Linked DNA regions of Homo sapiens: all the other regions are reported to be linked to region 2. The links are microRNA targets in miRTarBase. Many come from high-throughput screens and were not tested one by one. Region 2 holds a microRNA gene; each other region holds the end of a gene's coding sequence.

Evidence for each region. Region 2 holds the annotated microRNA hsa-miR-34c-5p (AGGCAGUGUAGUUAGCUGAUUGC, at 3,449-3,471, opposite strand). A microRNA usually pairs through its seed, bases 2 to 8, with sites in the 3' UTR of a target mRNA and lowers its output. Matches are read on the target gene's strand: a 7mer-m8 pairs with bases 2 to 8, a 7mer-A1 pairs with bases 2 to 7 and ends in A, and an 8mer does both.
Region 1: the mRNA of SLC4A2 is a reported target of hsa-miR-34c-5p. Seed matches in the 3' UTR shown: 7mer-m8 at 581-587.
Region 3: miRTarBase lists CLIC5 as a target of hsa-miR-34c-5p. Seed matches in the 3' UTR shown: 7mer-m8 at 567-573 and 7mer-A1 at 1,785-1,791.
Region 4: the mRNA of TJP1 is a reported target of hsa-miR-34c-5p. The part of its 3' UTR that is shown has no 7-base or 8-base seed match.
Region 5: miRTarBase lists NEUROD2 as a target of hsa-miR-34c-5p. Seed matches in the 3' UTR shown: 7mer-m8 at 1,744-1,750.
Region 6: miRTarBase lists GMFB as a target of hsa-miR-34c-5p. Seed matches in the 3' UTR shown: 8mer at 3,753-3,760.

Annotation. Positions count from the first base shown.
Region 1 is chr7:151,075,911-151,080,970 of GRCh38, forward strand. SLC4A2 (solute carrier family 4 member 2) reads left to right here. Exons shown (of 23, transcript NM_003040.4): 22 at 103-276; 23 at 377-613. The coding sequence ends at 457. FASTK (Fas activated serine/threonine kinase) reads right to left here and starts at 4,899. Exons shown (of 10, transcript NM_006712.5): 1 at 4,775-4,899; 2 at 3,590-4,012; 3 at 2,932-3,111; 4 at 2,652-2,791; 5 at 1,969-2,182; 6 at 1,711-1,870; 7 at 1,400-1,491; 8 at 1,191-1,326; 9 at 1,003-1,117; 10 at 714-922. The coding sequence starts at 4,856. The coding sequence ends at 815. RefSeq lists enhancers at 1-313, 314-1,289, 1,290-2,265, 3,242-4,218, 4,219-5,060 and silencers at 1,092-1,171, 4,634-5,060.
Region 2 is chr11:111,511,850-111,516,921 of GRCh38, reverse strand. It overlaps MIR34C (microRNA 34c), which reads right to left and starts at 3,483; the gene lies at 3,407-3,483. It overlaps BTG4 (BTG anti-proliferation factor 4), which reads left to right and starts at 4,536. Exons shown (of 5, transcript NM_001367975.1): 1 at 4,536-4,741. HOATZ (HOATZ cilia and flagella associated protein) reads right to left here and starts at 2,144. Exons shown (of 6, transcript NM_001100388.2): 1 at 1,912-2,144; 2 at 1,370-1,411; 3 at 812-882. The coding sequence starts at 2,137. MIR34BHG (MIR34B and MIR34C host gene) reads right to left here. Exons shown (of 2, transcript NR_147706.1): 2 at 3,034-3,904. It also overlaps MIR34B.
Region 3 is chr6:45,898,501-45,903,572 of GRCh38, reverse strand. It overlaps CLIC5 (chloride intracellular channel 5), which reads left to right. Exons shown (of 6, transcript NM_016929.5): 6 at 318-5,072. The coding sequence ends at 485. Among named protein-coding and RNA genes, the nearest start is that of CLIC5, 110 kb to the left of the region's middle. RefSeq lists enhancers at 808-1,652, 1,356-2,555, 1,957-2,645, 4,153-4,706.
Region 4 is chr15:29,696,939-29,702,010 of GRCh38, reverse strand. It overlaps TJP1 (tight junction protein 1), which reads left to right. Exons shown (of 28, transcript NM_001330239.4): 28 at 322-1,859. The coding sequence ends at 416. Among named protein-coding and RNA genes, the nearest start is that of LCIIAR, 25 kb to the right of the region's middle.
Region 5 is chr17:39,601,096-39,606,167 of GRCh38, reverse strand. NEUROD2 (neuronal differentiation 2) reads left to right here. Exons shown (of 2, transcript NM_006160.4): 2 at 1-2,400. The coding sequence ends at 717. Among named protein-coding and RNA genes, the nearest start is that of NEUROD2, 4.3 kb to the left of the region's middle.
Region 6 is chr14:54,473,495-54,478,566 of GRCh38, forward strand. GMFB (glia maturation factor beta) reads right to left here. Exons shown (of 7, transcript NM_004124.3): 7 at 991-4,665. The coding sequence ends at 4,594. Among named protein-coding and RNA genes, the nearest start is that of GMFB, 13 kb to the right of the region's middle.

The sequences.
Region 1 (5,060 bases), not on the chromosome of region 2:
GCACCTAGGAATGTTCTTCCATCCCCGCCTCCGAAGAAGAGAGAGGCTCTTCCCAGCAGCAGGCTAGGGAGGAAGCTGGGCTCACCTGTCTCCGCCCCCCAGGTCCGGACCCTCCGTATGCACCTGTTCACGGCCCTGCAGCTGCTCTGCCTGGCCCTGCTCTGGGCCGTCATGTCCACAGCTGCCTCCCTGGCCTTCCCCTTCATCCTCATCCTCACAGTGCCGCTCCGCATGGTGGTGCTCACCCGTATCTTCACCGACCGAGAGATGAAATGTGTAAGCCCTCCCGTCTGCCTCCCCCGGTTCCTCTTGCCTCCCTGTGGATCTGGAAAGGCCCCCCCACTTCCCTTCTTGACCGCCACCTCCCCACACACAGCTGGATGCTAACGAGGCAGAGCCGGTGTTTGATGAGCGGGAGGGTGTGGACGAGTACAATGAGATGCCCATGCCTGTGTAGCCGCCACCGAGGGACAGCCGAGGGACCGATGGACGAGGGGACAGGCTGGTGGGATGGGGTTCCCCCTCCCATGCCCCTCCCTCCTTTTTATTTAAGTGAATAATTTAAAGTCTTCTCCTCCCCCACTGCCCCTGCAGTAAAGTGCTTTGGCCCCCACCTATCTGTGGCCTTTTGTCTTTGTATGGGGGGCGGGGCATGAATGGAAGAGGCGGGGGACTCAGCTCTGCTCCCCGTCCCAAAACTGAGATTCACAACGGGGAAGGAAAGGAACTTTAATGAGAAATCAAAACACAGGGAACCAAAGTGCAAATCATCCACCCCCCATGGGGGGGCCATCCTGAACCCCACATCAACCCCTCAGCCCCCTTCAGGCCCCCAGCGCAGGCCCAGGGCCTGGAGCTTCTGCCTCAGGTAGCTCTTGAGCTGGGGCAGGCCTCTCTGGGACTCCAGTTCCTCGAAGGGTAGCTGTGGGGAGAGGAGAGGGCGGCAGGTTACCCGCAGGCTGGGAGTGAGGATGCGCCACGGGCCAGGCCAGGGCCACTCACCGGCAGGAGCTGGTAGCCCATCAGGCCTAGGTGCCGCTCCCTCAGGGCCCTCGAGCCCAGCAGCACCCGGCCGTCCCGGCAGAAATGCCAGCGTTCCCGCAACACCAGCACCACCCTGCAGGGGGAGGGACGTGGCTCAGGGCATGGCGGGCAAGGTGGCCAGGGCTCCCCCACCCTGCCTCCTTTACCTCTGGGCAGGGTCTCGAGTAGTGGCGCTAGAGGCAGCCTGGCCCTGTGGGCAGGACCTTGGTGGGTATGGCAGGAAGGGGTCCTGGGTCCTCACGGGAAGCACAGCACCAGAGCTGCTGGCGCACAGCAGGAAGTCTGGAGGGGAGCAGGGCCGGCGGCCTTAGCCAGGGCTCCGTCTCCCCGGGCCTGCCGCCTGCCCCTTGCTCACCTGTGCAGTAGCCTGGAGGCACAGTCAGGTCCTGGCGGTATTTCTCCTCCCCCAGCAGCTGGCGCAACCCCTCAGCTACTATGTCCTTGTGACTGAGGAGAAAGGACACCAGTAGCAGGAAGGGCCCGGCACCTCATCCTAATCTGTCCCAGTCTAGTGCCACCACCCTGGGCAAAGCCCTCTGCTGCTTCAGGGCCCAGTTTTATGGTGGCCGAGAGCTCCTTAGCTTTGGCGCTTCATGGTCCCTCTGGCTTTTCCACTCTGCTGGTCCCAGGCTGGCCCCTCCCCTTGCCCCAGGCTGCCCCATCCACCTGTACTTGCAGCGGGCACGGTCGGTGATGAGAGGCTGGGGAAAGATGGGCACTTGCTGCCTTCGGGGAAGGCGGGGACCCCGGTATCCTGGGAGCTCCAGCTCCACGGCCGTGTCCAGCAGGGAGAGGTAGCGACGCACAATCAGAGCATGAGGGGTGCCTGTGGGGAGGCGGGGACTGGGGCTCTGGGCTGCAGGCCACCCTGCTCCCCTGCCTCTCCAGCCCTCAGGGGCCCAGCCAGCCATCCTGGCTGCGTACCACTGATGTAGTTGATGAAGCCAGGGGAAAAAACAAAGTGCAGGGCTCTGAAGGGCAGGCACCGCAGTTGGCACAGTGACATCAAGATGTTGACTGTAGCCAGGGGTGCCACCCCTGCTTCCCGAGCCAGGATCCTCTCAAGGCAGGGCATAAACTGCTGTTCCAGGGGCAGGTAGTTCAGTCGCCCAAAGGGCAGGACCAACTTCTGTACCACCTGTGGAGGAAGAGCAGTTCATTACCCAGTGTCAAGTATTTCTGCAGTCATCTTTTACAAGCTAAGCCTTAGAGAGGCTTAGCCCTCAGGTTTACAACACTGCTGTAAAGACAGGACAGTCCCTCCGGCCTCACAGTTCAACAGCAAAGCAGTCACGAGCTGCACGTGACTAATCACCAGACAGGCAGAGGGGACATCGCTGTGGGGTCTGGCCCTGAAGACTTCGAGAGGGATGGGTGGAGCTAGGATGCTGCTAAGAGTGCTTTGGGAAACTGCAGATTTCCAGGAATGCATGCTGCTGACAGGAGGTGGGCAAGCCACAGAAAGGGTGTAGAAAAGATGCAGGTCCCAGGGGACAGAGAGGGTGTGTCTGCTTCAGGAAAAGGATAGCCGAGCTGCACGAGGCGCTGGGCCTGACAAGGTCCCTGAGAATGACAGAGATGCACTGGAGGGTGGGTGGCAAGCCCACCTTGCTGCTGAGTTGCGTTTCCTGAACCACCAGGAAGTGGGCAATGGCTTCCAGAAGCTGGGGCTCCCGCAACCGGTGCCGGGCCAGGTGCTGGGCCAGGAGCACCATCACGTGGGGAGTCAGTTCCTCTGGCCTTGCCTCTGTGAAGAGCAGCCTGTCACGCTGGGCCTCAGCCGGACCTCCGGCTGGCTCAATTCCACCTCAGCCCAGCCAACTGAGCCCACCTTCCTCCTCCTGTCAGCCCTCCCCACCCCCATCTGATTTTAACCCCCTCCAGCACCTGCCAGGCTGCTGATCAGATGCTGCCGTGGATACCGCAGAAAACGGGGGCAGCTTAGAGCAGCTTCCAACCCTTGCCCACCTCGGAGAAGGGGCTGCAAAGGGGGAGGTGGCTTCGGAGGGAGGCGGAGCCTTCGCTCCTGTTCCAGGGCACACACCAGGGGACCATCAGATGGAAAGCCTGAGGGGGAGAGGTAAAAGGCAGCCTGGTAACAGAGCTGTGCTGCTGTTCTTATCATGGGGTTACTTGGTGAATTCTCCACCTTTCTCCTCTCCCGTTTCCTGAGCGGGAAGGTGTGCTAGAGTTTAAGTGCAAACACTAGAGACATGTAAAGTATCATGTGGCTATGAGGTATCGAAACGGTTTGTAGGGAGTACATACAAAGATGGCAAATAGGCTTTCATCTCATACCAATTGTGACAAATTATGGTGGCTTCCTAGGGCACTCTATTAGCAGGAATCTGGGGTGGCACCCTAGCGAGGCCGGAAGGAGTGCGTTCGACTCATGATGTCTGCCGCAGACATAGGACGGGAGCAGGAGCAAGCGTTCCTGGGCAAACGCCTGAGAGGCTGGGTCTCTGTCCGTGGTCCTCTACTGTTCTCCCTATTCTTCATTAACACCTAGCCCCCCAGGCGCCCACCTCAAGCCCCTCCTCACCAAGTAAGACTGCAAGGTGCAGACACACGTGGATGGTGTGAATGTCAAAGGAGGGGCAGTTTCGGATGATGAGCTGACTCAAGTCCTGCAGTGTGACCTGCTCCACAGGAGGGGGCCGTGGCCGAGACCCCAAGAGCTGGCCCAGACGACGAAGCGCCACCGAGTAGTGGTGGGCGCGCACCTTGCTGGGGTTCTGGCCCAGCCAGCGCAGCAGCTCCCCAGGGCTCTTCGCCTGTTCCAGAAGCCGCTGCAGTCCTTGCACAGGACCTGCACTGGGGCCTCCTCCAACAGGCCGGTCCCCCCATTTGCTGGGCCCCAAACAGCAGGGCTGTACTGGAGGGATCAGCAGCAGGCCAGACAGCCGAGCAGGGGAGGTCTGAGCAGAGAGCAGGACTCGAAGCATGGAGTTGGGTGATGGAGACCCTGAGGGGCAGCCCAAAAAAGGGGGTGAGGTTTTCTCCAAAGGGGAGAAAGACCTGCTACCTACTGCTTACCTCACTCCTCATTTAGGGGGCCTGTGGTCAGAGCAAGCCTTTGTGACTGCTCTGGGCCTCTTCCCCACCCCGCCCCTCTGCCTCCTTCCACGCCTTTGAAACAGCAATCATAATCCTCAGTGCGCTCAGCGCAGCACTACTTGCAAAGCAATTCCACATGCACCATCTCTGATGCTCCTTACACGCCCATGAAGAGTAGGCAGGGCTGGCATTACCTCATTTCACCGGTGGAGAAACGCAGGCCCAGAGCAGCGAAGGGGTTAAGTTAAGCCCGAGGTCATTAACCGGGTTAGTGGTCGCGCCCAGTCTGGAGCCCAGGCGGCACCGGCGTGCACTCTCCCGACCACCTCCCTCTCCCACAGGAGGCGGCGGCGGCACAGAGGGTGGAACGCGGGCTCCGCGGCTGGACGGTGCTGGGTTCCATGCTGGGCGCTCCCACTCACCAGCGGCGTGACCTTGGACAAGTGGCTTCGTCTCTCTAAGTCTCCTCACCCGTGAAATGAAAACGCAGCGCCCACCTCGCAGGGCGCGCGTGGAGCCCGAGTGCACCGCTTTGCGATGGCGCGGAGTCGGCGAAGTCGGGGGCCCCAACACCCACCCCGGCCCAGGGACGCCAGGAGACCGTGGCCGCTGCCGCTAACACCAGCTCCCGCTGCCCTCCCGCAGCCCTCCCCGCAGGCGCCACCCCTACATGACTCCCCGGGCCCTGCGCAGGTCGCTCCCTCAGTCGGTCTCGGGGCCCGGGGGCCGGGTTCCCCCCGCGGCCTCCTCATCGGCTAGCCACCGAGTCCGCCATCTTCCCAGCAGCCCCTAGATAGCCGCCCGGACGCCAATCCCGAAGCAGCTATCGGTCTTCGGAGACGTGGCTCCCGGCAGGCACTGCGAGCCAGGGAGCCGCGAGCCCCGCCCGCGGGAAGTGCGCGCCCGGCGCCGAGGGCGGGGCCACGGAGGCCGGCGCCAAAGCCAGAGCAGAACGC
Region 2 (5,072 bases):
GGCCATGCCTGTATCATGAAAAGCAAACAAAGGATGTTGCCAGAAAGAGAACTGTGCTCAGCTGATTTGACTACACCAATGTGTTTAATTCCAGCCTTTAGTCAAAACAGGTCTAGATGACAGACTCATTCCTCTGATCATTTAATTTTGACCTATTAAGACAATTAATTCTATTTGATTTTTCCTGTTCTTATGATTTTTTTTTAAGACTGTGTCTCACTCTGCTGCCCAGGCTGAAGTGCAGTGGTGAGATCATAGCTCATTGCAGCCTTGAATTTCTGGACTCAGAGGATCCTTCTGCCTCAGCCTCCCAAGTAGCTCAGACTACAGGTATGCACCAGCAGGCCTGGCAAATTAAAAATTTTTTTTTTTTTTGTAGAGTTAGAGGTCTTACTATGTAGCCCAGGCTGGTCTTGAATTCCTGGCCTCAAGGGATCCTCCTGCCTAGGTCTCCCAAAGCATTGGGATTGTAGGTGTGTACTACTGCACCTGGCCTCTTATGCTATTTCTGTTCTTAGAACACTGTATATGGTTGGGGACCTTACTGGATGGAAAGTGTGTGACTCTACCTCTTTCTATTTCTCTCTGGTTCTGTTGTTCCTATACATTCTTGGACTTTTGCTGAGATTGATAATAGCCAATGTTGAATAGAATTTTTAAATTTTCAATTAAAATTCTAATAAAGGTTTCCTTAATTTGCTCAAGCTGATGCACTAGAAGTAGCAGATTTTTAAATATACATGTGTTTAAAAAATCAAGATTATTTAGAAATTTAATGATGATCAGATGACCTTCTGAAATATTGGCCTACCTTTTGGAGATACTTTACTTTCTCCTCAGATTCCTGTATCTTTAGGGCTTCGGCAAAGATGTCTCTATTTTCTAGAGGGAATAAAGTCAAATTCAATCTGAAATAATTTTATTATGATTTTATACTAAAATTGATATAAAATTGGACATGGGTTGAAAGGGAATACATAGAGTAGGAAGGTAAACAAAAATACATGTGGTGTATTGGAACTTTACAAACCAGATTTGCAAACAACTGGAGACTGAGTTAATTAGCTATGGCTGCAGGGAACCTCTAATCTCTTTAGATGATGAGTAAGCTCGAGTCCAGAGACAAGAAAAAGTCTCGAAAGAGAGCATATCTGCAGGATCAGAGATTCCAATTTCTACATTCCTGTTCAAACTGTTAAAGGAATTTAGGCATTGTCCTCTGGATAAACAGGGTGGTCCCTGAGCAGGGACTTAGGTGTTCAATTCAGAAAGTTATACCACAGTGTAAAGTAGTACCCTTGTACTTATTGTCTATTTTCTGATGAACCTAGGAGTCAGAATGTTGAAAGGCATAAAACTTGGTACTTACTGTTACTCGCAAGGTGAAAAGACTGCGAGGAGTGGCTGTTTTCTAAAAAATACAAAAGGGAAGTAAAGAAATCATTGGAAAAGTCAACAACATTAAAGGCGTTTGAATTTTTTATACTATAACAATTGCATAACAGTTTCCACATCCTAGGCCTCACTAAGGGCTCACAGGTCCAGGAAGTTCATTGGTAATGTTGACTCCACCTTCATCTTTCTCCAGGGCTTTTCATGTTTGAATTAAACTATGTAAACTATCCTTTCAGCCAACACATAGCATTTCCTCAGATTATTCTATACTGTTTACCAAATAGATGCCATAATTTAAGGGAAACTTATATGTTTTTAGATGTAACATATATACCACTGATCCTTTTCGGGTGGAAGGGTTGCTGGAAGGGTTCAGGAAATATTTATACATGCATTTGTATGTACTTATAACTATTTGTATATACCATTGCAGTTTCTCCTGGAAAGGGCTCTGGTACCTGCAGGCCAGTTACGGTGAGGCAGATATGACTGACAGGAGGCCGCTATTCTACTCACCAGACCCTCTGCTCCTCCTGGGCCGCGCCACCGGCAGACGCTGACTGCTGTCTCTGCGCAGCACCAGCTGAGATTCGCTAGGGGGATACATCGACGCCGAGATCCAGAACTGCTTAGCCAAGTTGGCATCTTGTTCCGAGGAGCCAGCAAATACCAGTAATCCCGGGGGGCACATTTCCTGGGACTCTTTTCGGCCGCTAGGTTCTTCGCTGGGTCCCGTTTCCATGGCAACTGAGGACGCTTCTGCAAGCGTCCTCTCCCCTCCCCCCGCCCCGCCCCTGCCCCGCCCCTCCGAGAACCGCCAAGTTGGTACCAGCCCCTGCCGGCTGCCCTCGGTTTCCTAGGTAGGTGTTGGGATCCGCCACGCGCGTGGGGGCCGTCGGAAGCCCACCCCTGCGGTGATCAGGTTTTAGGACCAGTCCAAATCTTGGATATGGGAGAGTCAAAACGTCAACTTTGGGTTGTGTCCTGTCGGAGTCAGTGGGGGAGTAGTTTAGCTTCTTATATCCTCAGTGGGCTGCCACATCCTCTCCCCTCCCCCCAGAAAGATAGCTAAATAAACTTTAAATTCCTCAGCCCCATTGCCCCAATCCCCACTTCCAAACCAGATTGCCAGGGACAGCACCTGCTAGGTGGAAGTTCTGAGAACGTTGCGCTGGAGAATTCACGCCTGAAAGCCTAGCCCTTGGGAGCTAGAGGCCTGAACTGGGCGGATACGTGCCCATGTGTACAGTTTCTGTGATTTTAAAATTCTGAATCCTTTAAATCTTAGGAAACAAGCTGGATTTAAAGTGTAAGTGCATTTACTAATCACTCCCACTAAAAGTTGCATAGACTCCAACAGTTGTAAATGATTACTTAAAAGAAGGGATACATCTTAATGAGTGAACAGAGTCTCTTCATGGAAAAAAGAAGTATGAAAAATTTTGTTAATGTATTTCTTATAAAAGTATTAACAAGTCTGTGTGTATGAGTAGCTTTCCCGGGAGATTTTTGTCATGGCAGGAACAACTTAACCACTTCATTGATAGAAAAGTTAAGATTACTGTGGCAGGAACTGAGATGGACATCATAAAGTCAATTTAGCAAAGGAAATGGACACATAGCAATAACCACAATTTATGTCTTTATGGCACTTTATTCTTTCGAAATATTACTAACAATATTACTTTCAAAATATTACTAACAATATAGTCTCAAGAAGTTAATAATCACATGTTCATATAATAACATACATCAGTCAGCTAAGAAAAAAATCATATTCCCCCTTATATCTAAAATTTTGGTTAAGAGCCTGAAGGAATATTGAAAAAAAAACAAAACAAAACCCCACATACATACACATTACATACATTGTAAACTTAGTAGCTGAAATGTTGATTTTTTTCTTTTGGCTGAGCAATTAATAGGCAATGGATGAAATCAGCATTTTCCAACACCCCTCTTCCCCACGCACATTGATGATGCACAGGCAGCTCATTTGGACGAATTCCCAAATCTTTTTACCTGGCCGTGTGGTTAGTGATTGGTACTATTAGCAATCAGCTAACTACACTGCCTAGTAACTAGACTCATAGAAAAAATTGCAGTCTCAAGTTGGTACCCCAACACGTTGTGACAGGCAGGCAATTCATTGGTTGAGTTGGAGCTCAACTGAGTTGCTAGCTTGGTGAATACTCTACTAGACGATGGCAAATAGACACAGTGAATCACAGCATACAGTATTAACCGTTACATGGATGGAGGGGCTTCACCTCCAGGGATTTTGCTTTCCTGGCATGAGACTGTTTCATCTTCTGTGACTCCTAGAGAGAGCTAACAGTTTAACTGTATCTGGAGAAACCGCGGGTTTCCTCGCACTTGCAGCGGGCGCTCGCGGGGCAGGCTGCGCAGGACCCACGCCGACGCCGCGCTTCTCAGGCATCTTCTCTCGAAGGCTGCGGGCTGCCCGAGCCGGCGTCTTCTTCCCGGCCGGGCGGCGGTGATGCTGTGCCTTGTTTTGATGGCAGTGGAGTTAGTGATTGTAACCACCACAGTACAATCAGCTAATGACACTGCCTACAAACCGAGCACCGGGCACCCGCGGCTGCAGCTCCCGGACGGTCCGCAGCGCCGACGCGGGGTCGGGGCCCGCCTCGGACCCCATTTCACCGGGGGACGCCCTACCATGGCTGGGCGCAAGCGGCCCCCGAGGACACCCCCGGGCCCAGCGGGACCCCCGCCGGCCTCGCAGCGCACAACACGCGTAGCTGGGCCAGCGGGCGGCGCTGCCGGGGAGGACCCGCGCCCTCCCAGGCCGGGAGCCGCGCCCCGACCCCCATGACCCCCAGGAGTGCCAGGCCTCCCCTTCCCGCAGCCTCCCGCTCCTCTCAGGGCCCTCCCGCTCAGGTTCCCCTCGCTTTTCCTTTCCCCTTCGCCTCCTCGGCCCGGGCTCCCACTTCCTTCACGCCAGGCTTCAGTTCCCAGCCCCAAACCCTAGAGCTGGCTCTCTCGACCCCGTGCGCCCCGCCGCTCTGAGCGGCCGAGTGACTGTGGCGGGGGCGACCAACCGTCCTTGGAACCCCGCGGGCCGAGGGGCGGGGCGGGCGCGAGACGGGGCGGGTGGGGGAGGGGATGGGGGGGGGGAGGAGGCTGAGAGAAAGCGCTGTGGGCGGTCCCTGAAGGGCCTCCAAGGGAGACGCCTAGAAGATGGAGGCCCAGATTCTTGAGACGTTTCTCTTTCTGATCTAGCAGGAGGGACAAAGAGCTCCTCCACTCCCTCATTCCCCAAGAAGGCCCCCAGCCTACCCAGTTTCCGTGACCATTCCGCCCTGGGAAAGCGGCTTCCCAGGTACCTCAAATTATAGGTTTGAATTTTCCAAATGGAGGTGGGCTTGGGTAGCCTCTGACATATGGGAGGATGGCTTGGAGAGTCTCATCTGCACCTCTGTGCTCTGTTGGGGACTTGGCCTTATACTCTTAGAGGGCCATGCAGTGATGTGAAGCCTGGGCCTTCTAGTCAAATAGTGAGCCAGGCAGCTTGTTAGTTACATCAAATCGTGGTCCTCTTGAGATCAAGGCCATACCATTCAAGACAGTATATATATAATAAATTACTAAACTAGGGACTATTTAGAATAGTAGAAACTATTTGTATCAGAAATAGAAGGGAGGTCCTCAAT
Region 3 (5,072 bases), not on the chromosome of region 2:
TTTGTTATTCAAAATAGCTCTGGGATCATAATTGTGTAGGTAAATCTTTATATCCATCCATGATTATTTCCTGAGAAAAAATTCCTAGAATTTGACACACTAGGTCAAAGGGCAAATTATGTTTACTTAAGAAATTAAATTAAAACAAAACAAAAAGAAGACAGCACTGCCACCTTGCATTTCAAACATATCACTGATGGCCCGTGGTGATGCACGGAGGTTTCCTGCAGTGCACACACACTGGGACGGCCACTAACACTTTCTAATGATTTGTTTCATGCCTTCACACCACCTCTGTCCTGCCATCTCTGTTTTAGATTGTGGCCAAGAAATACCGCAACTATGATATCCCGGCTGAGATGACAGGCCTGTGGCGGTACCTCAAGAACGCCTATGCCCGTGATGAGTTCACCAACACCTGTGCAGCTGACAGTGAGATCGAGTTGGCCTACGCTGATGTCGCCAAACGCCTCAGCCGATCCTGAGCACAGCCATTTTGCCCCATCCCCGCTGCAGAAGGACTCAACCACTCCCCTAAGACTCCAGCTTCATAGACTCCTCTGTATCACTGCCTTGAGGCGCACTTTTTATAATCAAGCCTCATCTTGCTGGTATCATGGGAACTCCAGCCTGCTATCTTTCATGAAGGTCAGCACCATCCCTGGCCTCCTCACATAGGAATCTAGCAGAAATGATAGACACAGTCCACCTTTCGGCCGGCCAGCCTGATCTGGGCTCAGCATGTTTGGGGTCAGTCAGTGTTGGAGAGCCCACATATGGGATTGCCACTAGCTTCTTCTGCCAATATCAAAATACCTTCTCAGATGCTTTAGAAACATGCAACACCAACTCCTTTTCTACCCTCCTCTCCGTCCATACCTACAAGGCCAAGGACAAACGCCATCTTCATCCTTCTTAGAAAGAGATCTATTACCCCATTAGGGGAGACAGAGAGAGTGAATGGAGGAGTACCGAGCTGGCTATGGACTTGGGTGTCTGGCAAACACAGCTTCAGTCTCACTACTTCTGACACTCTGGTTATTGGGCACTAAGGGCCAGACTGGAAAGTCACTTGAGACACATTCTCAGTTTGTTGCAGTGCCAGGAATGCTGCGCTGCTGCTGCTGCGCACCTGGCCCATGCTGTCCCTGGCTTCCATGCCGTCCAGGCCCTGCCAGAAAAGGAAATTGGCATGCAATTCTAAACTGCAGTGACTGGGATGGGAGGGGAGGGGAGCAGTGTTGATGCCAAAATACCCACGGGGTCTACCAGCCATGGGGTTTGCTTGCTTAGGAGTAGTTGTTTCAGAGGTGATTACAGGCCTGGGTTTGACTGTGCTTACCAATGAGTGGTTTTTGAGCTATGAGAAAGTGGATGGGAGTGGGAGGAGGAGAGATGGGTGAAGACAAAAGAGTTCTTTATGAGCCTCGATGTTCCCTGGTAAACTTTTAAAAAGGCCTTCTCTCATGATCTAAGTCTTGGACTGGTGGCATCATGTAACTGCTAACCTTACAGTAAAAACCCAAGAATGGGTCAAAAATGTCTTCCCAGTTTCTCCAAGCTGCTTCTGGAATGCAGGTCTGTCGGCTGGGTGCTCTCCAGCAGCTGCTCCTGCCTGATTCAACTGTAGCCTGTAATGGGTAAAAGCCACATTTAGGAGGTGGTCTGATCATAGAACACCTTAGGAAGAAAGTCCATGAGACTTTCTGACTAGGAAACCATGTGGTTTGAACTTGAAGAAAAATGTAGACCCATCTGGGTTAATTTTCCTACAATCTGACTCAACTGCCAGGTGAAAAAAAAAAGGAAAAATTTTTAAGCTAATATTTCACTCTTTTGTCATTCTCCTTAAGTTTCATCTCCTAAAAAGCTTACCCAGCCTGAGCTTGGGGACCTGTGCAGAGGAAACTAAGAAAAATGCACTCATCAACTCCTTCTCCCAGTGAACGCCCGGTGAGAAAATCCATTTGCCACAGGCCCTTACCTTCAACAATCCCCCTTCTATAGTGTTCGCTGGTAAAGGGTGAGGCTCCCAAGTGCTGGAAAGCCCCTGGACTTGGCTCATTTCTCAGCAAGGGCAGGATAGCACGGGTCCTTTCCATAGAAATATCAACAAATTCTAACCCAAGCAATCCCTGGACCTACCTGCCTCCAGGGATCTCTGAAGAAAAAAAGTAACCCATTGATCAAATCAGAGGAGAGGAAGCAGGAGGTCTCCTAGAGCCCATTGAGGAAGAGGAACTTTCTCAGTAGGACACTTTATAAGCCTGAGAAAGCTTTGAAAAGGCGGAATGAGTTGATTCATTTCCACCTCAAAAGGAACCTTTCCAGGTCCCCCTGGAAATTGTGCCCTGGAGATGTTTAACAAGGAGAACTGGTGAGGAAAGAGTCCTTTTTTACTGTAGGGAAAAGCCCCAAACTGGCCTCCTGGGGGATGAGGGCTGAAATGATCCCGAAGGCCTTTTAATTAGTGTGAAATCCTGCTGTACTCAGAAATCCTTCCCCGAATTTACAGCACAGGCAGGATGACCTAAGAGGCAGTTTACTTCCCTGAGACCCACAGTTGGGCTGTTCTGGAAACACATCTGTGAATCATAGCCAATTGCCACAGAGAAAACAGAACCAAGCCTCCGGTGAGGCCACTCCACCCCAGAGAAGTCTGCAGAATTCCAAGGACTCGGATTGGATGTTCAGAATTCAGCAACTGGAAAGTCCTTAAAAACAAACAGGCCAAACCAAATCAATATTGCTGTTTCTAGATGTCCCTTCTGTGGTTGAGCTAGTTTTACAGAGATAAATATATTAAGACAAGGAGGTGGGGGTGTTATATGATCAATGATAGCCATTTGAAAGAGAGGGAGGAGTACAGAAGGAAGGCACTTCTGGGTACTTAATTCAGAAATTTCTTTATATTTCAGCACTGGATTATCATATAATGCAAGTGACTATGGACTAAGAGTTAGTTATGGTGTCTTATGACTAGATTTATTATGGTATATTAAAGTAACAATAATATTAATATTACCTTCCTTTTTTTTTTTGTTTCAAAAGAGATCTTTCTCCAGATGCTTCAGCCTGTCTGGCCTTCTTATCATATGTGCAGCACATCATGTCTCAGCAACAGTGTGGTGAGGTCCTTAGGTGTCCCAAGAACAACTCAGGGAGCACGGGAGGGTCTGCAGTTGGGACCCCACAACTATACAGCTATAGGGTAGGAGGCTTCCTTTTCATTGGTCCTGAATGAATACAAATCGCTCAGAAAGCATTTTGGTGGCACAGAAAGGGGATGTATTTGTGTTGAGATCTTATTTTATTTTGTATTTATTTATCTTCTTTGACTTGCACAGCACTATTGGGGGTGGGGGAAGCAGGGTAGTGGGAGACGAAGGCAGAAGCAAGAGTCAAACTCAGAATGACTGAGTTGAATTCACTGTCTAGTCAGCAATGCCTGCTTCTGAGTTTGGCCCAGAGAGAAGGTATTGAGTAAGATTTTAATAACTGTAAAAAGTAAGCTGGATAAGTAAAATCATGATGGATCCAAAGCACAGTTTCTTCATCTCCTGATAAAGAAAGTCAAATGCTTGATAAATTCAGAGTCACAGATGTGAGCATAGCTATATTCTTTTAAACGAGAGGTAGAGTGACCTAGCACTAAGCAAATGAGCTGAAATGTCGGAAACAGAGTCCATCAGCTTATTTGGCCACACGATCCCAAACTAGTTTTATCTTGGGAAATGGCCCTGTCCTCAGCATTCCCTTCTTGTGCTGGTGGGGCCAGTGAAGTCTTGATCTTATCAGAAAAAGGCCACACCAAGTGCGAGTTTTCCCAGGCTGACTTTCCAGGCCCTTATCAAATGAAACAACAGAAGCTCTTCACAGTTCTGTGCCCCATGGCCACTCCACAGACAGACAATACCAAGCATCTTAGAACTGTCATAAGATAGGTCATGCCTGAAATAGATCTTGACCATATGAGAGTCCCAGAAATCAGCAAGGCCTGGACAAATAGAACTAAGAGAGAGGCAGAGGCAGGAAGCTGCGGGTCTATCTTGTAAAGAGTTTAGCATCACTGTGAGAGTGTGTGTCTAAAATTAAATTAAACTAGAAGCAGCAGGTGAGTATTTGGTAAGTACTTCTGTGACTCGCCTCAATTCCCACTGGCCAGGGGCCATCTCAACTGCACGGTGAATCAAGATGCTGGTGTCATCCTCCTTGGAAAAAGGAAATGTTAACTCATGGTTAAAACTAAGTACAATGATTCCCAAGGGATCACTTTCTTATTTTTTTAAATGACATTAAGGAGAATCTTAAGAAAGCATCAGAGAAAGACATGTGCATGTGAAGCACCCTGATTCTGATGTTAGGAAAACTTAAGCGAACAGGACCTGCTGCACACAGCCCCATTGTCTTCTATCCATTTCTCTTTATCATTCAAATCAAGCAACATGTGCCCTCCTCATCAACACACATTCTTCCCCTTTGTCAGTATGCATCTCCCAGCTTAGTGTCAGGATACTTTCGATTCATAATTATGTATGATCCAAAGTGTGCATAATTTCATTTAACGTTAAAGAAATAGATCCAATTCCTTTCTTGCAACCAAAAATAAATAAAATACGTTGCCTCAATATAAGGTTTGGGCTATTCTGTGTTTCTATAGAAGCAATCTGTTTTTGGTAAAATGTACTTTTAAGGATCCAGTCATCTGAAGTATTTTATGTAGAGTTAGAGATTTCACAATATTGACTATACATATATTTAAAATATAAATTATCCAGCTGATGTTTGAATTTGTCTTACTTTCCTGGCCACCTCGTTGTCCTATTTTATAAGCTGGGGAGTTAACTAGCTTAACAAAAGATGCTTAGCTTTTGTAAAAGAACAAGTGTTTCATTTTACAAAGACACTCCAAATGATAGTTACTTGATTTTCTCGAGACCTTTAACTATGGTGATGAATAACAGGACTTGCTTTCAAGCCTTAATAAATGTAAAATGCCTTTTAATGAAGATACAGCTGAGTGTTTTCCTCATGAATCTGAACCAATTACCAATTTGTGTTCCAGTCTTGAT
Region 4 (5,072 bases), not on the chromosome of region 2:
TTGAAAAGGCCAATGCACTTGATAATGTAATAAAGGAGAAGTCTGAAAATTAAAAACAAAAAACAAAAAACTGTTCTTAATGGTGTGAGTTAGAAAGAACGTTTTAAAAAAAATTTTTTTAGAAGTGTGAAACACCTTTGGAATTGTTAGATGCCAGCAGATCTGCTTTGAAATACAGCAATGTGTTTTGATACAAATTCAATATGCTGAAGAAACAGAAGAAAATTATGTCTAAATATACGTATTTGCCCTATAATTGCAAAGCATTACGGATAGCAGTTTACTGAACTGTAAATGACATCAACTTCTTTTCTCTCATAGGTGATCCTAAAACCTGGCAAAACAAGTGTCTTCCCGGAGATCCAAATTATCTCGTTGGAGCAAACTGTGTTTCTGTCCTTATTGACCACTTTTAACTCTTGAAATATAGGAACTTAAATAATGTGAAACTGGATTAAACTTAATCTAAATGGAACCACTCTATCAAGTATTATACCTTTTTTAGAGTTGATACTACAGTTTGTTAGTATGAGGCATTTGTTTGAACTGATAAAGATGAGTGAGCATGCCCCTGAACCATGGTCGGAAAACATGCTACACACTGCATGTTTGTGATTGACGGGACTGTTGGTATTGGCTAGAGGTTCAAAGATATTTTGCTTTGTGATTTTTGTAATTTTTTTATCGTCACTGCTTAACTTCACATATTGATTTCCGTTAAAATACCAGCCAGTAAATGGGGGTGCATTTGAGGTCTGTTCTTTCCAAAGTACACTGTTTCAAACTTTACTATGGCCCTGGCCTAGCATACGTACACATTTTATTTTATTATGCATGAAGTAATATGCACACATTTTTTAAATGCACCTGGAATATATAACCAGTGTTGTGGATTTAACAGAAATGTACAGCAAGGAGATTTACAACTGGGGGAGGGTGAAGTGAAGACAATGACTTACTGTACATGAAAACACATTTTTCTTAGGGAAGGATACAAAAGCATGTGAGACTGGTTCCATGGCCTCTTCAGATCTCTAACTTCACCATATTACCACAGACATACTAACCAGCAGAAATGCCTTACCCTCATGTTCTTAATTCTTAGCTCATTCTCCTTGTGTTACTAAGTTTTTATGGCTTTTGTGCATTATCTAGATACTGTATCATGACAAAGACTGAGTACGTTGTGCATTTGGTGGTTTCAGAAATGTGTTATCACCCAGAAGAAAATAGTGGTGTGATTTGGGGATATTTTTTTCTTTTCTTTTCTTTTCTTTTTTTTTTTTTTTGACAAGGGGCAGTGGTGGTTTTCTGTTCTTTCTGGCTATGCATTTGAAAATTTTGATGTTTTAAGGATGCTTGTACATAATGCGTGCATACCACTTTTGTTCTTGGTTTGTAAATTAACTTTTATAAACTTTACCTTTTTTATACATAAACAAGACCACGTTTCTAAAGGCTACCTTTGTATTCTCTCCTGTACCTCTTGAGCCTTGAACTTTGACCTCTGCAGCAATAAAGCAGCGTTTCTATGACACATGCAAGGTCATTTTTTTTAAGAAAAAGGATGCACAGAGTTGTTACATTTTTAAGTGCTGCATTTAAAAGATACAGTTACTCAGAATTCTCTAGTTTGATTAAATTCTTGCAAAGTATCCCTACTGTAATTTGTGATACAATGCTGTGCCCTAAAGTGTATTTTTTTACTAATAGACAATTTATTATGGCACATCAGCACGATTTCTGTTTAGATAATACACCACTACATTCTGTTAATCATTAGGTGTGACTGAATTTCTTTTGCCGTTATTAAAAATCTCAAATTTCTAAATCTCCAAAATAAAACTTTTTAAAATAAAGTGCTGGCTTGGTCTGTTTGCCCACTGTTTTCTAGTTTCATGCAGCTTTATAATCCTGTTTTAAAATCCTGCACACAAATCCCTATCACCCAGCGTCACCTACCACCTCGTCGTCTGGTGTTGCATGCAGAATTTCTCCCCTTGGCCAGCATGTACAGATGGGTGGGCAGTGCTCATCTGAAGGGCTCAGACTGAAGTGGGGCAGAAGGACCTGGAGACAGAGTGGGAGAAGGCAGCAGGCCGACTTCCCCCTGTGGGTAAACACACACCCCTGCGTGGAGAAACACCCCTGCATGGGGACACACGTGCGTTTGTGTGTGTGCGTGTAACCATTTGTATATGGTTTTATTCCCCAGATAAATAGCACGGGCATTGTTTAATGTCACCCACATTTGGGGGAAGAAAATGGGTTTAGTGAGCATAAATATTCCATTGTGGACATCCTACTTACTTAACTGCCACCCCTGTTGACATTTGGATTATTGCTATAGTGTTTCAGTAAACACCTTTGTGGACTGAATCCATCTATGTGGATTTTATTTTTTTCATCTTTGTTAAGGTATAATTTACATAGAGTAAGTTACTGTTTTTAAAATGTATAGTTCAAATTTTGACAAACACATACTGTTTATTTACCACGGTTAATACATACAACAGTTTCTTTATCTTCTCTAATCATTTGTACCCCTTTATACTCAACCCTTCTTCCAGCCCCTGGCAGGATGATCTCTTCTGTTTCTATAGTTGCCTTTTTGACAGTGTCATATAAATGGAATCATACAATATGTTGCCTTTGAGTCTGGCTTATTTCACTTAGCATGATGCATTTGAGATTCATGTATGATGTTGCAGGTTCTTTTTTATTGCCAGGTGGTATTCCATTGTGTGGCTGTACCAGAGCTTGTTTATCCATTCCCCAGTTAAGGAACTTCTGGGTTGTTTCCAGGTTTGGGAGATTATTAGTAAACTGCTATAAACATTTGCGTACAGGTTTTTGTGTAAACGTTACTTCATTTCGCTTGACTTCAGTTTGATGAAGTCTAGTTTAATCAGTTTGTTCTTTCATAGATTATGCTTTTGTCATATCTTCACTAAGATGTTCTATCCTAAGAGAAATCTTCACTTAGCCCAAAGTGTAAAGACTTCTCAAGTTTCAGAATTTTTTGTTTTATATTTATGTCTGTGATCCACTTTGAGTTAACTTTATGTGTAGTATGATATAGGTGTTGAGTTTTCTGTTTTAAATGTGTCCTTATTGTAAACACAGACACACATATATAAGGCCTAAATAAGACAGTTTTCATTTAGATAAATTAGGGAAACAATTTATTGTGAAAGGGACACAACTCAGTAAGTCTGTTTTTTGTCCCCCTACCTTTTAGTATGTGGCATGAACACCTGGTCAGGTGTAGATACCTAGAGCTCCTTCCTAAGGACATTTCTGTTGCCTAACCATCTTCCCACAGCACTGAGCATGGTGCAGTGAGTTCATTCAGATGGCCAAGCTTTAGGGTCAGAATTCTGCTTTTGCCCTTCCCCTATACTAACGTTACAATCAACAGAAGGCTTAGTGAACATCCACTAATGCTGCGTGAGTCAGTTCCTCCTCTTGACCTCTGAGCAAGTACTTAATGCAGTACACAAGGCACTGAGCAGATGGAGATGACTCAGGTGAGGAGACACAGACGTTGACACTGGGTGGCTTCCGTCTAGACAGGGAGCAGTTGGCTAGGAAGGGATGTGGCAGTAAATGCAGGAAGGCCACCTAGCAGGCAGATGGGGAGTAAGTTTTCGGTTTTCTTGACTCGCAGTTTGAAAACCATTTACTGGATGGGAAGCCAGGCTCTGTTTTCCGTCCAATTTGCAGAAAGCAAACCAGAGAGCTGTGTACACAGATGCATCCGGGCACACGTTACTGCGGCTGCCCAGCAGCCCTACATGTAGAGAGTGACCTGGCACTCTGTTTCCAGGCTGCTTAGCCGGGTTTCCCCAGATGGAGTGTGGGAAGACACATTGTTGATGTGCTGATTTTTACAGAACCACATTGTTGTCTCCTGATCAATTTGATCACAGCAAAAACTCAGTGGCATTTTTGACTCTTACCTACTCGTGCTTTCCTTTGGAACTACTTGACAGTGAAGGAGCTGTTGCCCAAGATGCAGGAATACCATTTGGTTTAGGGGAGGGGTTTTTTGTTTGTTTTTGGCAGGGGAATTCACTAGGAAGGTATATATTAAACTTGGAAGATTTCTAGTTCAAAACTAAAATGCATAAAACTTTAAATGTTTGTTTTCCATTTCCATTTTGTAGATAATTAGGGCTTTCTTTACCAGTGACCATGAAGGTGCCCCCTAGTGCTTGTTTCTCCCAGCTGATGGGTGTTCATTCAGGTTAGCCAGAAGTTGACACAAACAAGGTGCTCAGAAGAGAGGTCTGTAACCAACTACGACAAGCCTTCCACATTCTGACACTCTCCCTTCCCTCCCTTTGCACCATAGGCTGTTCTGAGGGAATTGTGTCCATAGTTGTCTAGGAAACCACGTGCCAATAAAGACAAAAATTGAGTTTTGTTGCACCAAGTTTTCTGCCTACTGGCGCAATGCCAGGCAGGGAAGATGTGTAAGGTTTTCACTTGGTGCATGAGAGAAGTGCACCTCGTGAGACGCACTAGAGCCCCCATGTGGAACGCCCTCCTCTGGCACTCACCCGCGGAAAAATAGGAAGAGGTGGGTGCACAGGTGGTGATTTTAGCGTGTTTTACCTTGGCTTGATTGTCACCGTAAAGTTTTGAGGTAGTTTGATCTATTTGTCCACATAGCACCTCCTGGTCTTAAGTGGATTTGAAAACATGCAGGTATAAATCATTTCATACCCCCTTAAAAACAGAGAAGGAAAGAAAATGTGGAAACTGACATGTGGTCAGTATGCTGCTGCTGTTTAGTGTTGAGGGGCGTGCCAAGTATTCACCCTAGCAACTCTTCATTTCTTGTCAGTGGGGGTGTGGCAGAAACCGGCTGGAACGACGGCAGTGGGGTTCCTAGAGAGGACTTTGAGGACATGGGGTTTCCCAGAGCACTTCTGAGAATGAGTGTCTTCCATGTTGGATAAGGACAGCTTGAAGATGAGCAGGAACCAAGTGGAAAGCATGAAGGTTGAGACCCAGGGAGCAGCCCCAGTCTTGATACCTACCAAGCAGCGGTTGCCGTTGTAGTG
Region 5 (5,072 bases), not on the chromosome of region 2:
CGCAAGGTGGTGCCCTGCTACTCCAAGACGCAGAAGCTGTCCAAGATCGAGACGCTGCGCCTAGCCAAGAACTATATCTGGGCGCTCTCGGAGATCCTGCGCTCCGGCAAGCGGCCAGACCTAGTGTCCTACGTGCAGACTCTGTGCAAGGGTCTGTCGCAGCCCACCACCAATCTGGTGGCCGGCTGTCTGCAGCTCAACTCTCGCAACTTCCTCACGGAGCAAGGCGCCGACGGTGCCGGCCGCTTCCACGGCTCGGGCGGCCCGTTCGCCATGCACCCCTACCCGTACCCGTGCTCGCGCCTGGCGGGCGCACAGTGCCAGGCGGCCGGCGGCCTGGGCGGCGGCGCGGCGCACGCCCTGCGGACCCACGGCTACTGCGCCGCCTACGAGACGCTGTATGCGGCGGCAGGCGGTGGCGGCGCGAGCCCGGACTACAACAGCTCCGAGTACGAGGGCCCGCTCAGCCCCCCGCTCTGTCTCAATGGCAACTTCTCACTCAAGCAGGACTCCTCGCCCGACCACGAGAAAAGCTACCACTACTCTATGCACTACTCGGCGCTGCCCGGTTCGCGGCCCACGGGCCACGGGCTAGTCTTCGGCTCGTCGGCTGTGCGCGGGGGCGTCCACTCGGAGAATCTCTTGTCTTACGATATGCACCTTCACCACGACCGGGGCCCCATGTACGAGGAGCTCAATGCGTTTTTTCATAACTGAGACTTCGCGCCGGCTCCCTTCTTTTTCTTTTGCCTTTGCCCGCCCCCCTGTCCCCAGCCCCCAGAGCGCAGGGACACCCCCATCCTACCCCGGCGCCGGGCGCGGGGAGCGGGCCACCGGTCCTGCCGCTCTCCTGGGGCAGCGCAGTCCTGTTACCTGTGGGTGGCCTGTCCCAGGGGCCTCGCTTCCCCCAGGGGACTCGCCTTCTCTCTCCCCAAGGGGTTCCCTCCTCCTCTCTCCCAAGGAGTGCTTCTCCAGGGACCTCTCTCCGGGGGCTCCCTGGAGGCACCCCTCCCCCATTCCCAATATCTTCGCTGAGGTTTCCTCCTCCCCCTCCTCCCTGCAGGCCCAAGGCGTTGGTAAGGGGGCAGCTGAGCAATGGAACGCGTTTCCCCCTCTCATTATTATTTTAAAAACAGACACCCAGCTGCCGAGGCAAAAAGGAGCCAGGCGCTCCCTCTTTCTTGAAGAGGGTAGAAGTTAGGGCGCCGGAGCCCGGGCCTGGAACGCCCTCACCCCCAACCTCCAGTCTCCGCGTTTTGCGATTTTAATTTTGGCGGGAGGGGAAGTGGATTGAGAGGAAAGAGAGAGGCCAAGACAATTTGTAACTAGAATCCGTTTTTCCCTTTTCCTTTTTTTAAACAAACAAACATACAAAAAAAAAAAAAAAAAAAAAAAAAAAAAAAAAAAAAAAAGCTAAGAGGCGACGGAAGCCGAACGCAGAGTCCGGATCGGAGAGAAAACGCAGTAAGGACTTTTAGAAGCAATAAAAGGCAAAAAAAACAAAAAACAAAAAAACAAACAAAAAAAAACCACTACTACCAATAATCAAAGACACAAATATCTATGCAAGGAGGCTCCACTGAGCCTCGCGGCCCGGCCCGGCCCCGGGATGCCCCGCCCGGCCTGCGGGCCGCCCCGCCCGAGCGCGGATCTGTGCACTTTGGTGAAGTGGGGGCCCGCGCCGCCCCCTCCCCCTCCCCAGGTTCTTACAATCAGTGACTCGGAGATTTGGGGCCCCAGTGCCACTGCCCTCCCCCGCCCCGTCCCCGTTGTGCGTCATGCTGTTTTTTAAAAACCTGTTTCCAAATTTGTATGGAATGGCAAACTGTTGGGGGGTCGGTTTGGGGAGGGAGGGTTTGCATGAAAGACACACGCACACCACACCGCACGCACAAGCAGGCCCGGCGCCGGCGTCCGGGGGGCAGAAGGAGGTGAGCTCGCCGGCTCCTCCTCCCCGCGGCCATTCTGTCCCCTCCTGGGGTGAGGGGTGGGGATGGAGACCTGGGGGCAGCCCCACCCCTGCCCGGACTGTGCCTCGGTGGGTGCCACCTGGCGATTTCCGGTGTCTGGAGAGAGTATTTTTTGGTCCAAGGAGTCCTCTTGGCTTTAGCTGGTGGGTGGGCGGGGAGAGGTCTGAGGGCTCCTACTGGAGGTTCCCCCAAAAAGGGGCAAAAGGAGACCCTCTGCCCACCGGAGGCAGGGGATCAGGCATCCAAATACACGATGCAAAAATGCAATCCCACAGGCGACACACCCACACACTCACCCACACACACGCAATTTTACCTTCCTCTTGTAGCGAAGATGAAACTCCCGTCGGACACCCGAAGTGCATTGCGTGTTTCTGTTCAGTTTAATGACGATTAATAAATATTTATGTAAATGAGATGCAAAGCCGGACCGGTTTCTCACGGTGGCCTCATTTCATTGAGGGGGGAGAGAAGGTTTGAGCTGGGGCTGGGGTGATGAAGGCAGAGTGTCAAGTGACTGTGCAGAGGCCAAACAGAGGGACCCTGGACATTCTTGGGTAGTATTCTCTCCCTAACCACCCCCCATACACCCACTGGGCTATACTAGCTACCCCTCCCAGACCCAACCCAGGCTCGCACCTTCCCAGCACTAAAGCACTGATATCCTTACACTTCTTCATTCCTGAACATGCACAGGCACCTCCCTTGAAAACAAAATACCTTTTCATCACTGAAAAATGATCAAGTTGGGAACAGCCAGTCATTTTACAACTCTCTGCCCACTGTTGCAAAAAGCAAGTGGGCAGAGACAAAGAGACAACCATTTGAATCAGACAGGGGTATTTTTAAACAAAACAAAACAAAACAAAACAAAACATTATAAGGTCATGAAGATGAAATATTAATGAGGGAGGCCCCTTTTTCATCTTAAAATTGTATTTCGGTGGACTCAGGGGAATCGGCCATTTTGGTCTCAGGAATGTTGACATGTTTAGGGGTGTGGACAAGGTTGGAGGAACACCCCTAGAGGTCTGTGAGGTGGCTGAGTCTGGGCGCCCACCCAGTAGAGAGGAGCCTAACCATGTACTCCCTGGGACAGGGCAGCAGGCGCCCACCCAGTCCAAATCTGGGCTGATTTCTTCCTGTCTGGTACAGTTCTGAACAGAGGGAACCCTAAGGGCTTAGAAGGGAGGAAGGGCACTGGGTGAGCATCTCCTGCTCAGACAATGTGGCCTCACAATTCTTTTTTCTCTGAACCTGAGAGGCAGGGGCAGCTCTTAACTGACTTCCCTGATAGAGTCCCTCCTACTCCCCCTGCTCAGCCCTCAGTGCATGCTGTAGCCCTAGAATATTTGAAGAGGGTTCTGAGCCCCAAAGACTCCCATCCTAAAGCCTGAACACATTTAGGAGTCCCCCAAAGAGGCTGTTTCTGATGCTGCTCATTTAAATGATTTCTCCAAACACTGTGACTCATTTTAGGGCTGAAGTGGGGTTTGTAGTGTTGGGGTTGAGGATTAAGGTCAGGCATGCAAAGGCTTTTAAAGATTGGGTCCAAGAACCCAAAATAATATCTCCCTGACAAGCAGGAAAGGGAAAGATTGTTGAAGAAGGAAGTCCTATATATTGAAGGGTGGATCAAATTATACTCTGAACTTGAGCTCATTGCATCCCCTAAATGTCTGTCCTCAAACCTCTTCTGTCCCCCAGTAGAAAGAATACCCTCCCGGTGGTCAGGACAGCTGTCGGCAGAGGCGCCAAGGCCAGGAGCTGTCCACTGTGGCATGCTGACCCTCGTCTAGTGTCTTTTCTTCTGGCTGCAGAGGGAGGTCCATTTGCCTGACCCAGGGGAACATGGAGCAGGAGGCCCTTTCCAATGCTGCACTGGAATTCTCCAGCAGTTTTCAGAACATTTACCAGCATTCTTTCAAAATTTCACTGCCTTCTCTGGAATTCTCCCGGCATCGCCTCTCTAGAGTGAGATCACAGACTAGGGCCTTCATCCCCCGGATGTGTCCCTGTCTTCAGCATCTTAGAAACCTCTGAATCACTCCTATTCATGGAAGAAAGGAGTTGGCCCATCTTCCTTCCCCCTCACTTATTGCAGGGAGTGTAGAGCAAGGCACATACCCCAGATCCTAACCTGCAAAAGTCTGATCTGCACTCATGGCGTGGAGCAAGGCCTGGCAGGGGCAATTGCAGAGAAAAGGAACTTGGCACTTATCCCGAGGCCTGATTCTTATCCTGCCCTGAGAACAAGGTTAATTGGGCTTCTCCCCTACTCAGTCAGTTTCCTAGAACCCGCTCAGAAGTCCAGAGCTGGGCGGGATCCAGGTGGCTTGGGGCCTGAAGCAAAGGACCCCTCCATGTGGCTCTCCTGGCCAGACCACAGACTTCTTTCTATGCATTGTTCTTCAGCTACCCTACGTGGCTCAATTCTGTTTTTGAAGCCAGATTCCAGCCCTTTTAGAAAGATGCTGATGACTTTTGGGCCTCTGTGAGCTGTGATCACATTGGGTGGGGGTGCACAGGTCCCTTTTGGGACAGAAATCCCCCCGAGTGACTCAGCTTCTGGTGAATCCCGGCATCCACACCAGTCGCCCCTTTCCCGATTTCTGACCCTTCCCCCCACATTCCCTGCACTCTGGCTGGCTCTAGCCTCTCATCACCCTCCTCCCCAGTGCTCAACTTCCCTGGCGAGATGGTGTGATGAGCAGGAGAAGAAGATGTGCGCGGACAAGCGGCCCCAAACGTCCCCTCGCAGGTCTCTTTCTCTTGCTTGCTCTCCCGCCTGCGCACACACACCCAGAGATGCTCCAAGAACAGAAGCAGGGGAGGGAGGAGGAAAGGGGCCAGCGCTGTGCCTGGCCTGGGGAGAAGGCACAGAGAGGACGCCCTTCTTGCCCTAGCCTCAGCGGCAGGCTCTCCAAGCGTCCACCAGCCGGCTCAGCTCAACCCCTGGGCCGCTGAACCCGACGGCTGGATCCAAGTTCAATCAGGAGGACATCTTCCTCTTGATTTTCCAGACCCCATTCCAAGTCCAGCATTTGGAAGATGACAGAGAAAAAGAGGTATCTCCGAGTCCAGGCCATTTGCCCATCTGGC
Region 6 (5,072 bases), not on the chromosome of region 2:
CCACCATGCCCGGCTAATTTTTTGTATTTTTAATAGAGACGGGGTTTCACTGTGTTAGCCAAGATGGTCTCGATCTCCTGACCTCATGATCCACCCGCCTCAGCCTCCCAAAGTGCTAGGATTACAGGCGTGAGCCACCGCGCCAGGCCTAAAAATTCTTTATTGCAGTTCTCCTATCTTAATAAATTGGCTCTGTCTGGGCAGCAGGCAAGGAGAACCCATTGGGTGGTTACAAGAGTGCGCCCAGGTTCAGAGGCTAAGTGCTTACAAATGCTTCTTGCTGCTGAAAAGTGAAAAGGACAAAAAGACAATAGGTATTATTTAGTGAAGGTGAAAAAATTTAAGAGCTGGCTGTTTGAGTAGGTTAAGTGGCCAAATTTGATAAATAAGGAAGATATAAATGTTCCCATGCTTGGGCCAATTTTCCTTGTGAAATTCTTAAAGACAGGAAGGCATAAACTACTCCTTTCACCATCATAACAAATTGTGACTATTACAACATACACAATCACAAGTACATGGCAAACTCTAAAAACTATGTTATTAGTGATTTGTATTCATTCAGTAGATACCTATTGAACATATACCATATAGTACAGTTGGTAATAAAGGTAGGACGGGTTGTCAATGGGTGTTTAATACATAGTGATAAGCTATATTCAATTAAAAAAACCTTCAATTTGATTTCTTACGAAGTATACAGCTCTCCTAACTTCGAATTCTCCCTTTGAAAGCAAGCGTTCATTGTTTGAAATAGCTCTGTCTGTCCCTACTACTGTTTACTGACATTTTCTACATTTTAGCATCAGACCAAGTTTTAGAAATTTTTATAACTTGATTATCTTCTCCTTCCACCAAGCTGCCAAATGACTTGTTTATTTTGCCTCTCAGTTTGTCCAGATAAAGTTTATGGCTCACACAAATCTAGCCAGGTACATACCAGTAACTCCAAAGGGGGAAAGAGGTGAGTAAAAAAAGAAAAGCTGGAAGTCTTTTAATGTTAACATTTTATTTAAACCAGTACAAGCACCATGCTTAACAAAAGACTGTCCAAAATAAACATGCAATATGAACTAGCAGAGACTGAAACCACAGCTTAAGGAGTTGTGTCAGTTGTTGGTTTTGTTAAACGATGACAGAGAACTGTTAAAATTCACAAGACTAAACCATTAATGTTTCAAGCCTCCTGAATGAGATTATCTTGGACCATCTAAATCAGTGGGAACTGCCCTGGCATGTTAATGATCTCAAACAATATTCAAGTAATTATATTTATATGAATTATAATCCAAAAAGCAATAAAATACAATTTCTATCACAAGTTTACTGTATATGAGCACTGATTTGAAATGTCAAATGGCATAATAAAAACAAATTTCTCAAGAATATTCAGCTTGGGAGCATTGGTTTTAAGCGGTCTAGAAGATTACTACATTCTTCCAGAAATACAAAATAAGATTTGTCCAGAAATGTTTGAAACACATCCTCACAAAAGTTGTAATGGCTCAAACTCTATAAATTCCAGTATTATCAGTCTATTGAACAAATAGGGAAAGCAACCATAGTAAGAATACTTGAATTGATAGAATATGAGTTACTCTCTACTTCCACCAAATATCAGCATTTAAACTCTTATGAAAATATCTATTCATCACTAGTCCACATATGGATTAATGACATTGCTCAGGTTTTAAAAGCAGTCCAAACATTTTTTAAGTACACCTTCCTTAATATCTATATGGGTTGGGGGGAACAGCCAAATTTAATTTGGCAATAAACTCCCCTAACTGGAAATTTTTAGCTAAAGTGTCAGACAAGGATACAGTTTATGGCTACATTTGACTCCTGAAAATAGGAGATAAAAAAGGAGGGAAAAGTGCTGACACACATTTTGCCACACAGATTATTTAGTAATGACAGTAAAAAATTTAGCAACACACACTTAAACAAGAGTATGTTTAACTGCACTAGGCATTTAGTAAACTTTTAGAACTAGACAATTTGAACATTTTAGAAGTCAATTAAACAAAAACAGTCAACCAACTTTTTTCCTAATATAATTGCGTCAATACCAGAACAAAGTGATCACTATTCAAAACTCAGACATTTTGGAATTTCAGCATAGTAACCTGAGAAGTTTTCTTCGTATGTATTTTTGTTGTCATGGAAACCACACTAAATAATACTGTGATTACCAGTTGGTTCTATTTTGACATTAGATGCTATGCAGAACTTATGCAGGGCCAAAAATTTCAAAACTAACACTGACTTAGAAGACCACGAAGGAGGATCCCAGGAAAAAAGTTGCTGCTAAAAAGGACTCAGATTTAAGGCTGAATGGGAATGGTTGTACCAGAAAGATAACGGAATGTAAAAACTGGAATTATGAAATCTGGAGTTATTATTTGGGAAATGGCAGAAAAAAAGACAGTAAATACGAAACATACTTGAAAAGAACAATGCAAAATTTAGTAAGATGAAAGGGAAATCTATATAAATGTTTGAGAACATTTTAGAGCACGGGATTTGTAAATTTCCCCATAGGACAGATGGAATAAAAATGTCCTACTGATCCTCTAACCTCAATCTGTTGTCTTGCCAAAAACATGTTATTAATTAGGAGTCAGACAAGCTCAAAAAAGCATGGTTTATCACAGCTCTTTGCTCCTGTTAAAGACAGTAGCGGAACTAAGAGTGCTAACGTATGGCAGGTCAATATTATCTGACATTATGGAGGACCTCCAAATTTAAAAATAAGCAAAACTAAAACATGCAAGACAAAATAAGGAACTTCATTAAAAAATACATTCTTGCAGCACTAGTTTCTCTTACTGCTGCAAAACAGGTGAAACAAAACCTCATTTCCTTCATTCAAAAACATTAAAAACACTCTCCACTCACTTGGATTACATGTGCATTCCTACAGAATTATATGCATGTTATTCTCCAATATCAAAATACCTGTTTAAAGAATTTTTAAACTTCCTGGGTGAGTTTTCTCTTCTCTCTGGAAATTGGAATAAAGAATCTTTTCCCTCCAAGAACCAAAACAAACACCTACTCTAGCACTTCCTCATCTCCAACTTTCTATTGCTTCCTGACTTCTAAATTAGTGAAGCCAAACAGTGTTGGGAACAGAAGATGTTCTATTCAATATCGCAAAAATTCCAACTATCTTTACTTCTCACAGAAACCTCAAAAATAAAATGCAAAGAACATATGAATGGAAAACATGCCAAAATTTAAATTTTGCTAGTTTTGAGATGACTAAGATATTCTTAATATAAGAATACACTCACCAAGTTTGGTTAGTTTTTAGAGTCTCTAGACCTATTATCAAATTAATGTTCAATGGTTACTTATGTATTTGTTTTTACAAGTATGCCAAATATCAGAATCCTCGCTTTATGCCAAGAGTACCATCATCTAACAAGACTGGTTTAGTTAACTATTCAGGCATCCAGTTCAGAATATCTTCTGACATTTAGGATATAAGATGTGATTGCTATTGAAGTGTTAATGTTATTAACTATGGCCAAAGTTTTAAGATAATTTTTTCCTATGGCACAAAACTAACCACAAGTATACCCAAAATTATAACTCTCGACTGCCATATATTCACCAATGCAAGCAGATAGTTGGAATTTTTAAAATATGAAGTTGATTTTATTACAAATTTCAGATATACACATTAGAAAATTATTTTATTTGGACCCTTTAAAAAAGTATTAATTTCACCAAATGTGGAATACTGGCAGTGTAAAAGTCTTAAACTAACTTTAAAGCTAACAAATCAAAGGCACAGTATTAACACATTTAAAATAATTAGTGTTCACAGGACATTGAGGTGCTTTATAAATAAAGTGTTATTAACCTAGATTCAAAACTGTCTAGAAATGACATAAAAGGAATGAAGCCCTTGATTATTACAACCCACCAATTTCTAAGACTAAGATGCTATAAGGAGAAAAGCTAACAGTCATAATTCTATCATAAAATCTAACTCCCGACCTTAAAAATGAGTGACTGATGAACATAGTTTCTAGACTTGATTAAAAAGATACAGGAAACCAAAGAAGATACAGAATTCATCAATGTACTTGTAATACAGGTTACACTAAATTATTCATGGCTCAATACTGGGTCACTCAAGTCTTTGACCCCAAATGAATTTCAATGATTTGACAAGTGATAATACGCTATTTTCATAAATAAACTGCTAATATCCAGTATTTGTCAAAAGGAGGCAACTGTTGTCTCTCACAATCTAATATATCCACTTTCCAATGGTGTCTGTAAATAGTAACAAATTCCGAACCATAAGTTATAGAAATTAGTCACAAGAGTGCAAAAAGTCCCTGGAGAAAAGTAGTCCACCTAACAATTACCAATATAAGGAAACACTTTACAAAGTTTCATTACTATGAAGATGATTTCCTCTTTGTTCAAATTTTGCACAAATGAAGAATTTTTCTTTACTGCAGGAAACAAACTGTAAGTAACAGTGCATTTTTAGGCATAAATAAGTATTTATGTCTGATTCCAGTATGGTCAGGTTAATACATAAATACTTTAGAAACACAGAAGTTCACATTAGTGAAAAAATCCAAGTTTCTCACGTAACCATTCTTCAGTTAGGTCTTCGGTATTTCTTATTTCAAATACCTTTAAAAAAAAAAAAAACTTGGGTCATACTTTGACACTCCAAAAAAAAAGTCAAATATTTGAATTTTTTAAAATATATTTGAGTATTATACACCAAACTATTTTTGGTTATATATTTGAGTATTAAATACCAAATTCTGCTTCCTTTCATATTGTTCATGACTTAACCTGTGTAAATGAGATATACCTTTTAGGTAGAACTTCACTTCTTTTAAATGCTAAGTACTCAGTTACCAAAGTACAGCAATCAAGACAACATGAAACCAAAACTCTCCCAAAAGCACAAATCTACAAATAGTCTAAAAGAGCAGTTCTGTAAATCTTATCTCCTAGAAGACATCCCAAGTAAACACAACTAAAATCAATCTAGTTAGGAACTGAGGAACATACGCTGGTCTTCCAGAGTC